Homo sapiens: one gene and its partner. Changing the gene in region 2 together with the main gene of any one other region gives a genetic interaction. Each region holds a gene or a part of one and is shown on either strand. Other genes may lie near its edges. The genes, in order: MED23 and CWC22.

What was found.
Region 1: changes in CWC22 (region 2) and MED23 together harm fitness less than expected from each alone (positive genetic interaction), as found in Homo sapiens cells (one large-scale study listed by BioGRID).

Annotation. Positions count from the first base shown.
Region 1 is NC_000006.12:131,585,975-131,590,312, forward strand, and holds the end of MED23 (mediator of RNA polymerase II transcription subunit 23), read right to left. Parts: intron 3,623-4,338; coding exon 3,491-3,622; intron 1,873-3,490; coding exon 1,705-1,872; 3' UTR 964-1,704; coding exon of another isoform or gene 946-963; 3' UTR 758-945; downstream 1-757. UniProt on the Homo sapiens protein: Required for transcriptional activation subsequent to the assembly of the pre-initiation complex. Component of the Mediator complex, a coactivator involved in the regulated transcription of nearly all RNA polymerase II-dependent genes.
Region 2 is NC_000002.12:179,948,114-179,951,940, forward strand, and holds part of CWC22 (pre-mRNA-splicing factor CWC22 homolog), read right to left. Parts: intron 2,814-3,827; coding exon 2,712-2,813; intron 2,620-2,711; coding exon 2,399-2,619; intron 1-2,398. UniProt on the Homo sapiens protein: Required for pre-mRNA splicing as component of the spliceosome. As a component of the minor spliceosome, involved in the splicing of U12-type introns in pre-mRNAs. Promotes exon-junction complex (EJC) assembly.

The DNA of each region.
Region 1 (4,338 bases), on a different chromosome or scaffold from region 2:
CACAATTTTATCCTCATTCTAGGATCAAAAAGCAATAAATTCCTCAAGGCAGCAAGAATACATTGACGCTATGCTAAGATTAACACTTGAAATAATCTCTAGCATGTTTTCTGGGTAATTTTAAGAATGAGTCTGCAGGGGCCGGGCACAGTGGCTCACGCCTGTAATCCCAGCACTTTGGGAGGCTGAGGCGGGGGATCACGAGGTCAGGAGATTGAGACCATCCTGGCTAACACAGTGAAACCCCGTCTCTACTAATACTAAAAATACAAAAAATTAGCCAGGCGTGGTGGCAGGCGCCTGTAGTCCCAGCTACAAGGGAGGCTGAGGCAGGAGAATGGCGTGAACCCGGGAGGTGGAGCTTGTAGTGAGCCCAGAGTATGCCACTGCACTCCAGCCTGGGTGACAGTACGAGACTCCGTCTCAAAAAAAAAAAAAAAGAAAAGAGTAAGTCTGCAAAAATTACTTTTACCATTATATAAATTTTTAGCTGGACTTGCATGGCCAGTAATGATTTAGTGATGGCAATTACATGAGCTACAAAGAAAATAAAGTTCTAGGAGGAATGTATTTAGAAATATGAATTTGAAATACAGTTGGTTAAATTCACTAGTTCTTTTTAAAAGAATCTGTAACTCTTAATTCCTAGGCCAATGTCAGTCACCAACTGTAGTGTAGGAACCACAGAGTACCCCATTTCCAACTGACCCCAGCCAGCACACCACCTGGCACACAGCCGACACTCATTCCAATGGAGTCGGGAAACAATCACACGGTTTATTCATTCAGCAGACTTTACTCATTAGTTTTCAAGTCTTTCGCAATGCCAATTCCCCCAAAATTAACAATGTCTCTCAAAATCCAAGAAATAAAATGTGTACTGTATTTACAAATATAAAATTTAAAAATTTTAAGATTATAAAAATTGAAGAATTACATCATCTGTCAGGTGAGAGTGTCAACCTGCAAAAGCAATTAACTTATTTTTAAAAAAAGAAATTGGAGAATCAACCATTTAAGCATGATTTTAAGTTCAAGAATTTTCAGATGTTATTTTCTTACATGGCTTCCAACTAATTTTATACAGTAAGTTCAAGTCCATAGCAAAGGTAATAAAACTGCCAGTTGACCTTGATAGAAACTATGGAAATTTATAATAAAATTTCAAGTCATTTTAAAAAGAATATGAAGCCTTGTTTGCTCCTACAATGCAACAAAATCTAGATTCCTTTTCTTGATATAAATCTCTATTATTCTGAAAATCTACCAAGAGATTTATGTATAAAATATTTGTAATAACTGTTTTACATGTGTGGTGCCTTTAAAATAATATATCTGAAGACTAAATATGTCATTAATAATAAAAAATACAAACAAAAACAACGGCTAGAATAGGAAAGACTGAAAGTGCCAATGACAAGTCATTTGATCACAGATACCTCTATGTTCCTACATAGCTCTAATAAGTTGTTATGAATATGAACAACATGTATCTTACTTGATCTCTTAGAGACAAAAATATAGATAGGGAGATGGGAGTTATAAGGTGTCAACAGATTCATCATTTGAATCAAAATAAAACAATCTGAATATCATCACTGCTTCTACTATATCACTACAGTGTGATCGCATTCAGATTTAAAAGGTTTGAGTCCACTCTCAAAGACGGATATATTTCTACTTTCTCCACAGTACAGTCTGGCTTCACTGAGTTACTGGTAAAGACACGGGCACCTGATTAGACTGAGGTGCTGGAGACCCACTGTTCATGGCTTGTGGAGGCACTGCAGCTGGCTCCATCTTGCTAATGTGTGTGATGAATCGAAGACGAAGTTTTAAAGCTGGTTTTAAGTTACAGATAATCTTCTCTACCTAAGAAATAAAAACACATTAAAACGTACTTTAATCAGAGAATTTCAACTTCTCACATTTAAAGCAGGATTTACACATATCCGGAGACAATAAACTAAGGAGTGTCGTGGGGTAGATGAGAAGTTTCTTAACATGTTCTGTGTTTTAAGAAAAGCAGATACAATGATTTCTTTCTTGCATGAGAAACAATACGTTCTCCCTCACACACACCCCTTATATATTATATGTGCATGTCTGTACATGTACCATATGTATATTCATATATATGCATATACTTACAAAGGCGTATCCACTCATCTAGCTAGCCAGTCATCCCACTACCAAAAGCTAGCAGAGTTTACACTGGAAATTTTATACATCCAACAAGTTGATCATTCTTTTAAAATGCCATCTTTACAGAAGCATGAAGCATAATTATAAAGTTCTTTGAATAACTCATGTTTGCAACATTTATCTATAAAACTATTTTGGTTTTGATTTACACTTGGAATTAACTAAATAATATTAGATCTACTCTTTTGAAAAACACTAAGGAGACAAACACATCAAGTCGTTTCACAGCTTTCTTAGCTTTACTCAAATGCTCTTTGACCTTTTCCTTTCTGTACTCCCTTGTGTTAAAGTTTCTTAGGCCTAAATGTAAAGAATACTTTTTTTAAAAAAACAAACAAATAAACAATTTCTTTTACAGTTTCTCTGCATGTTCTGTGTTGTAACAAAAGCAGATACAATTTCTCTCTTTCTTACATGAGAGAGAACAGGTCAACTCTCTTTGACACTGCTGCTGAGACATAAAGGAGTCAACCTCCTTGGCATCTCAACCTAAAGTACTGGGAGGGGTAGGAGGATGGACTTAACTTTCCCTATCTGTCCTACCTCCACTCCTTTAAAATGGCCCAGATTCTGTTTCCTACACGTAGGAAACTCAGTTATGATTCAAGGTCTTTTTCTACTTTCAGACATCCCCATTAGGAAGTTCCTCTTCATATGCTAAGTCAGGGTGGCCTCCCTTTAACTTTACCAGAATTCATACACCCTCTAAAGTGACACAGAACGAATCTAATACCTATTCCAAATGAAAACCCTCCAAAATGCTGAGGTCATAAATAATTCCCTAGGACTTTTTTCTTCAGGATAAGCATTCCCATATTCTCTAAATGCTTTTCATGAGTTAGTCTCTAGTCAGGATTAGTCTAGAATCCTGACTTTAGTCTTCTAGTTATGCCGCGGTTTGTCTACTGTCACCATGAGTGTCAGGAGAAGCAGGACCTCCTTTACTCATAACACAACAACCTCTCTGCTCATATTTCAGCAGCCATATCCCACTGTTTCTCCCTAATGAGATTACTATTAATTAACCCTCTAGGTCTTTTTCAGATTTTCTGTTGCAAATATCAAGGGGGAAAAGTACAAGAAATTATAACATGTATTTCCTTTAATACTACATCTAGAATAATATGCCTCTGATGCCTAAAAAGGTCTCATACCCACCCTTTTTCCTTAAAAGAAAAAATTAGACAAAATAAAAATAATCACCCAAACCAAAAAAGTCTATTACTATATGTTCAAGTTTTCTAAATTAAACATCATTAAAAATAATTAAACAAATTCAACTTACTTGCTCTTTCACGCTGTCACCAGTAAACATATACTTCATGTGATAGAGGAAGTCACAGATGGGATCCATGTAATTTAAATGGGTGCTACACTGGTCAACATTCAGCAGCATGTCATAAAACGCCACACCAATCTATTTAACAAATAATGTAAAATTATTTAAGTGATCAAGTGATTCAGTAATTCAGCATGATGCAGCTGGGCTCCATTACAACACTAGCACCGGGGGATACTGTCTTTGCTGTAGAACTGTCATATACCATATACACCTCTATGCACATGAGATATGATATGGCTTGCATTTATAAAAGAATCTATAGTGCTACAAAATGCCCCTGACAAGGCTTAAATAAAATTTCTCTTCATAGTTAAGTAATTTCTCTTAAAATCAAGAGATAAACAATCCCCTTTCTAGACACCATCTCTCGATGTCTGGGATAACTCCACTCCTAGGGATCCTTTGGATTATACTTTCTTAGTTCCATTTGGTAGCTCTTGCTTTAAGGTTCTACTCCTGGGTCCTTTCCTTGTTTGCGACATTTTGTTAGAAGTGACTGACTTCATCCATTCTCATGATTTTAATTAGCTCCTCTGCACTGTAAGATCTCAAATGTACTTCTCCATCCTTAACCTCTTCTCAACCTTCATGATGGGCGTTTCCTCTGCATCTCCAATTCAATACATCCCACCCTAAATTCATTACTGGCAAACTAAGTCCTCTAAAATTGCTCTTGGATCCTGTTAAACTAGTTTCACTACTAATGGTTGTGACCTGCAGTTTCAATAACACTGGTAAAGAAACTTAAATAGATACTTCAGAATTTAATCATGTCACAGGAAACCCAGATT
Region 2 (3,827 bases):
AATGCCAGATACAATTTTAAAATGTTGCATTGAAAAATGTTGAAAAGCACACAGAAATCAAGTTGAAGGAACTCCTAATTGCCAAAGCTAAGATGATTTGAGCAAAATAAATGACAGTATTGGACTTTAACCCACAGGATAAGATAAATAACCGTGAGTCTATATTGATATTTACAGTTGACTAAATAAATAAATGAGGGAAGAGGGACAATACTTTCTTATAGAAGAAATTCAATTACTAGATGTAGAAGAAAACAGACAAATAAAAAATCACCATTAGGTGATTTTTTAACCATCCAAAGATGGATGTTAAAATTAGTGAGTAAAAGCTGGAGGAAAAAGAGATTTGCATAGTATCAAGTTACCTCCCTACAAGACATTTTCACAGAGAAAAATAGTTTCCCTGAAGACATCCAGTGGACACCACCTTACTCAAGTGATCAAGGTTGTCACCCAAAATAAAATTATGAACCTCTTGATAAGATGCACTAAGAACAACACATTGTTTCTAATGTACTCTTGCCAAAAATGTCTAATCTCATTCTAATAAGGAGAAAACATCAGACGAAACTCCATACTGAGGGACAGGTTACAAAATAAGTGACCAGAGGACTTCAAAAGTGTTAAAGCTATTAAGAACAAGGAAAGCCCGAGAGGAACTATCATAGAATGCAGAAAACTGAGAATACAATTAAATGCTAGCAGAATCCTGAAATAAGAAAAACGACATTAGTGGTAAAACTGGTTTTCAAATCACATCTGTAGTCTAGTCAATAATGCTGTTCCAATGCTAATTTCCTAGTTTGATAAATGAACCAGTGTTATGTAAGATGCTACCATTAGGGGAAGTTGGAATGAAGAGTATATGGAAATTCTCTGTACTGTTTTTGCAACTTTCCTAAATCTAAAATTAGCTCAGAATAAAAGGTTACAGTTACAAAGTAAAAAATATAAAGGCATCAGAGAGCTAGTGGAAAAACAAGTACTAGAGGGGCCAAGATGCAGGAGAAAGCAGAAACATTGAGAAGTAAGTGATGTTCTACAGCTACTTTCTCCCTGGGAGCATCTGCTGATTCAGGGATGCTACTGAGGGACAGAGACACCAGAGGTCTGGTAGCCTTGCAGGGCTAGAGAGACAAGAATGGGACTGGTTATTTGCAATACATATATGTACAAAAGATATCATATCTAGAATATGTAAAGAAAACCTACAAATCAACAGAGAAAACAACTTAACTAAAAAAAATTGGTAAAATACTTGAACAGCCACTTGACAACAAAAATCCAAATGGCCAATAATGGATAAAATGGCATTTAACTTCTCTAGTTGAAATGCAAATTAAAACTAAAACCGCCATGCAGTACCATTACACATCCACCAGAATGGCTGAAATGAAAAAGACGGTCAATTTGAAGTATTAATGAGAATGGGAGCTAATGAAACTCTTATACATGGCCGGTGGGAGTGTAAATAGGAATAACCACTTGGAAAACTGACAGTATTCACCAAAGCTAAATATATGCACATCTTATGACACACTGACTCCACCTATAGGTACATACCCAGTAGAAATGTGAATAAATAAATAAGGTCATCAAAAGATATGTACAAGAATATACATGGAAATATCACTTGAAAATCTAAAGTCTGTTGAGCAAAAATGATAAATATATATTGTGGTATATTCATATAGTAGGAAACTACATAGCAATATTACTGAATTAACTATAACTAAATGCAGTAATGCATCTAAATCTCACAAACATAATGGTAAAAAAATAAGCCAGACATAAAAAGGAGTCCATAATACATAATGCTAAAGGTAAAAACAGGCACAATTAATTTATGAAATTACAAATCAGAATAGTAGCTGCCATGAGGATGGAAGGAGTAGTAACTGGGAGAGGAAACACAGAGAACTTCTGGGGTACCGGTATATCTTGATTTGTGTGCTAGCTATGAGGATGTGTTCCCTTTATAAAAATTCATATAGCATCTGAGATCCACAATGAATGTATGATATATCTCAATTACAAACAGCTTTAATATTAAAAGTAAAAAACTAAAATTTATTTAAAATAAAAACATCAGGATAGCTCCTATAAACTAGATTACAAACATTATGAATGGATGGTTCATATCAGTCATCACTCAGATAAGTATCTGCGAATGAAATATTTTCATTTCTATGATGAGGATGTCAAAAGGTAATCCCAGCATTATAAATGTTGTATTACAGACTGCAAGAATGATAGATGGGACCATTTGTATTAATTGTGGCTTTTAAACAACTGATCTCTAAGACAAATAAACAATCAAATTATTTTCTTCCTTCATATATATCAGCAACATATTTATTAGAAAAGAGCAAGCCAAATTACACATAAGCTTCAATACCTGAGGCAGAGCTATGACTACTGATGGATGAAGAGTCGCTCTCTTCACTGGAAGACTCTGAACTGCTATCACTGCTGTCAGAATCAGAGTCGGATGAGTCAGACTCTGAAGAGGAGGACGCTGAAGAGGAAGAGGATGGGGAGGATTTATTTTGCTCAACATCTGGTTTCTGCGCCACAATGACCTTTGGTGTATTTTTGAGATGCTCCCGCAGTTCATCCCTAATTTAAAATATAATCTGTTAGATTCTATTTCAAAGACAATTATGAGATAATTTTATAATCTGAACATAAATTCTGAGAATAATCCTTACGTTAAACCTCCAAGACCTATAGAAGTAAAGAAGTTGATGGCAAACCGAGTGTTTCTTGGATTATCTCGGGGTAATAATCCTTCAAAGAATGGCTGCAGAGTTCTAAAAAGGAAAAAAATAAACAAAAGAGAACACATTGCTTAAAGATAAAAAGGTAAAATCCTTAGTCATTTTTCAGATTTTTCATATATTAAATTACTAAATGAAATACAACCAAGTAACTAGTTGATGTCATTTATTAGGTTAGGCTACGTGCTATCTAAATGAAATGAGTAGGGTCAAGTAATAATGTACCAAACTTGATTTCTATCATTATACAATGTAGGAGGTTTTTAAAAAACTTTTTTTACACACACACATATAGAAAGATAAATATATACACATATATACACGTGTGAATATATATAGTGTATATATATACACACACGTATATATAGTGAATATATGTACAAAAAATTTTAAAAACCTTCTCTGTTGTGTATGTACACGTACACACACATACATAGAACTGTGCCAAGTACTGGGGGAGAGGTGGAAGTCATCAACAAAAGGGAGAAATCAAGGATGAAGACCATATAATTACAATATATATGGAGTGAGACAACCAGAAAGACACTAACAATACAAGGTGGTTTTGGACATTTGGTTTTCAGCACCACACTGAGTAACTACTCAGTGGAGTCAGAAAAAACTTTCTCACAGAAAAAGGTACAATATAAGAAGAATGATTAAGAGTTTCCCAGATAGATCAATAAGACAGGAGAATGCCAGCAGTGGAAACTGAGGTAAGGAAGCATGAAAGAGCCAGATATGTTTAACAAGCTTGGCAGTGTTGGTATGGCTGGAGTGCAGCTTGCTGAAGAGAGAGAAGACGAGCCTGGTCAAGTAGACAGGGACCAAATAAGTAAGTATATGAAGCCAAGAGAAGTGGATGGAATAGTCCAGAGACAGTGTGTGGAACCCAGGAACACTGAAGAGGCAGGCTGAGGAGAAGACTGAGAGAGGAAGTGAGAAGAAAGTATGGAGCCACAGTGAGTAGGTAGTCAACTGCATAAGTGAGGCAGAGAAGTGAAGAGGCATGCAGCCTGAGAAAGACAACTGAATATGGCAGGTGGT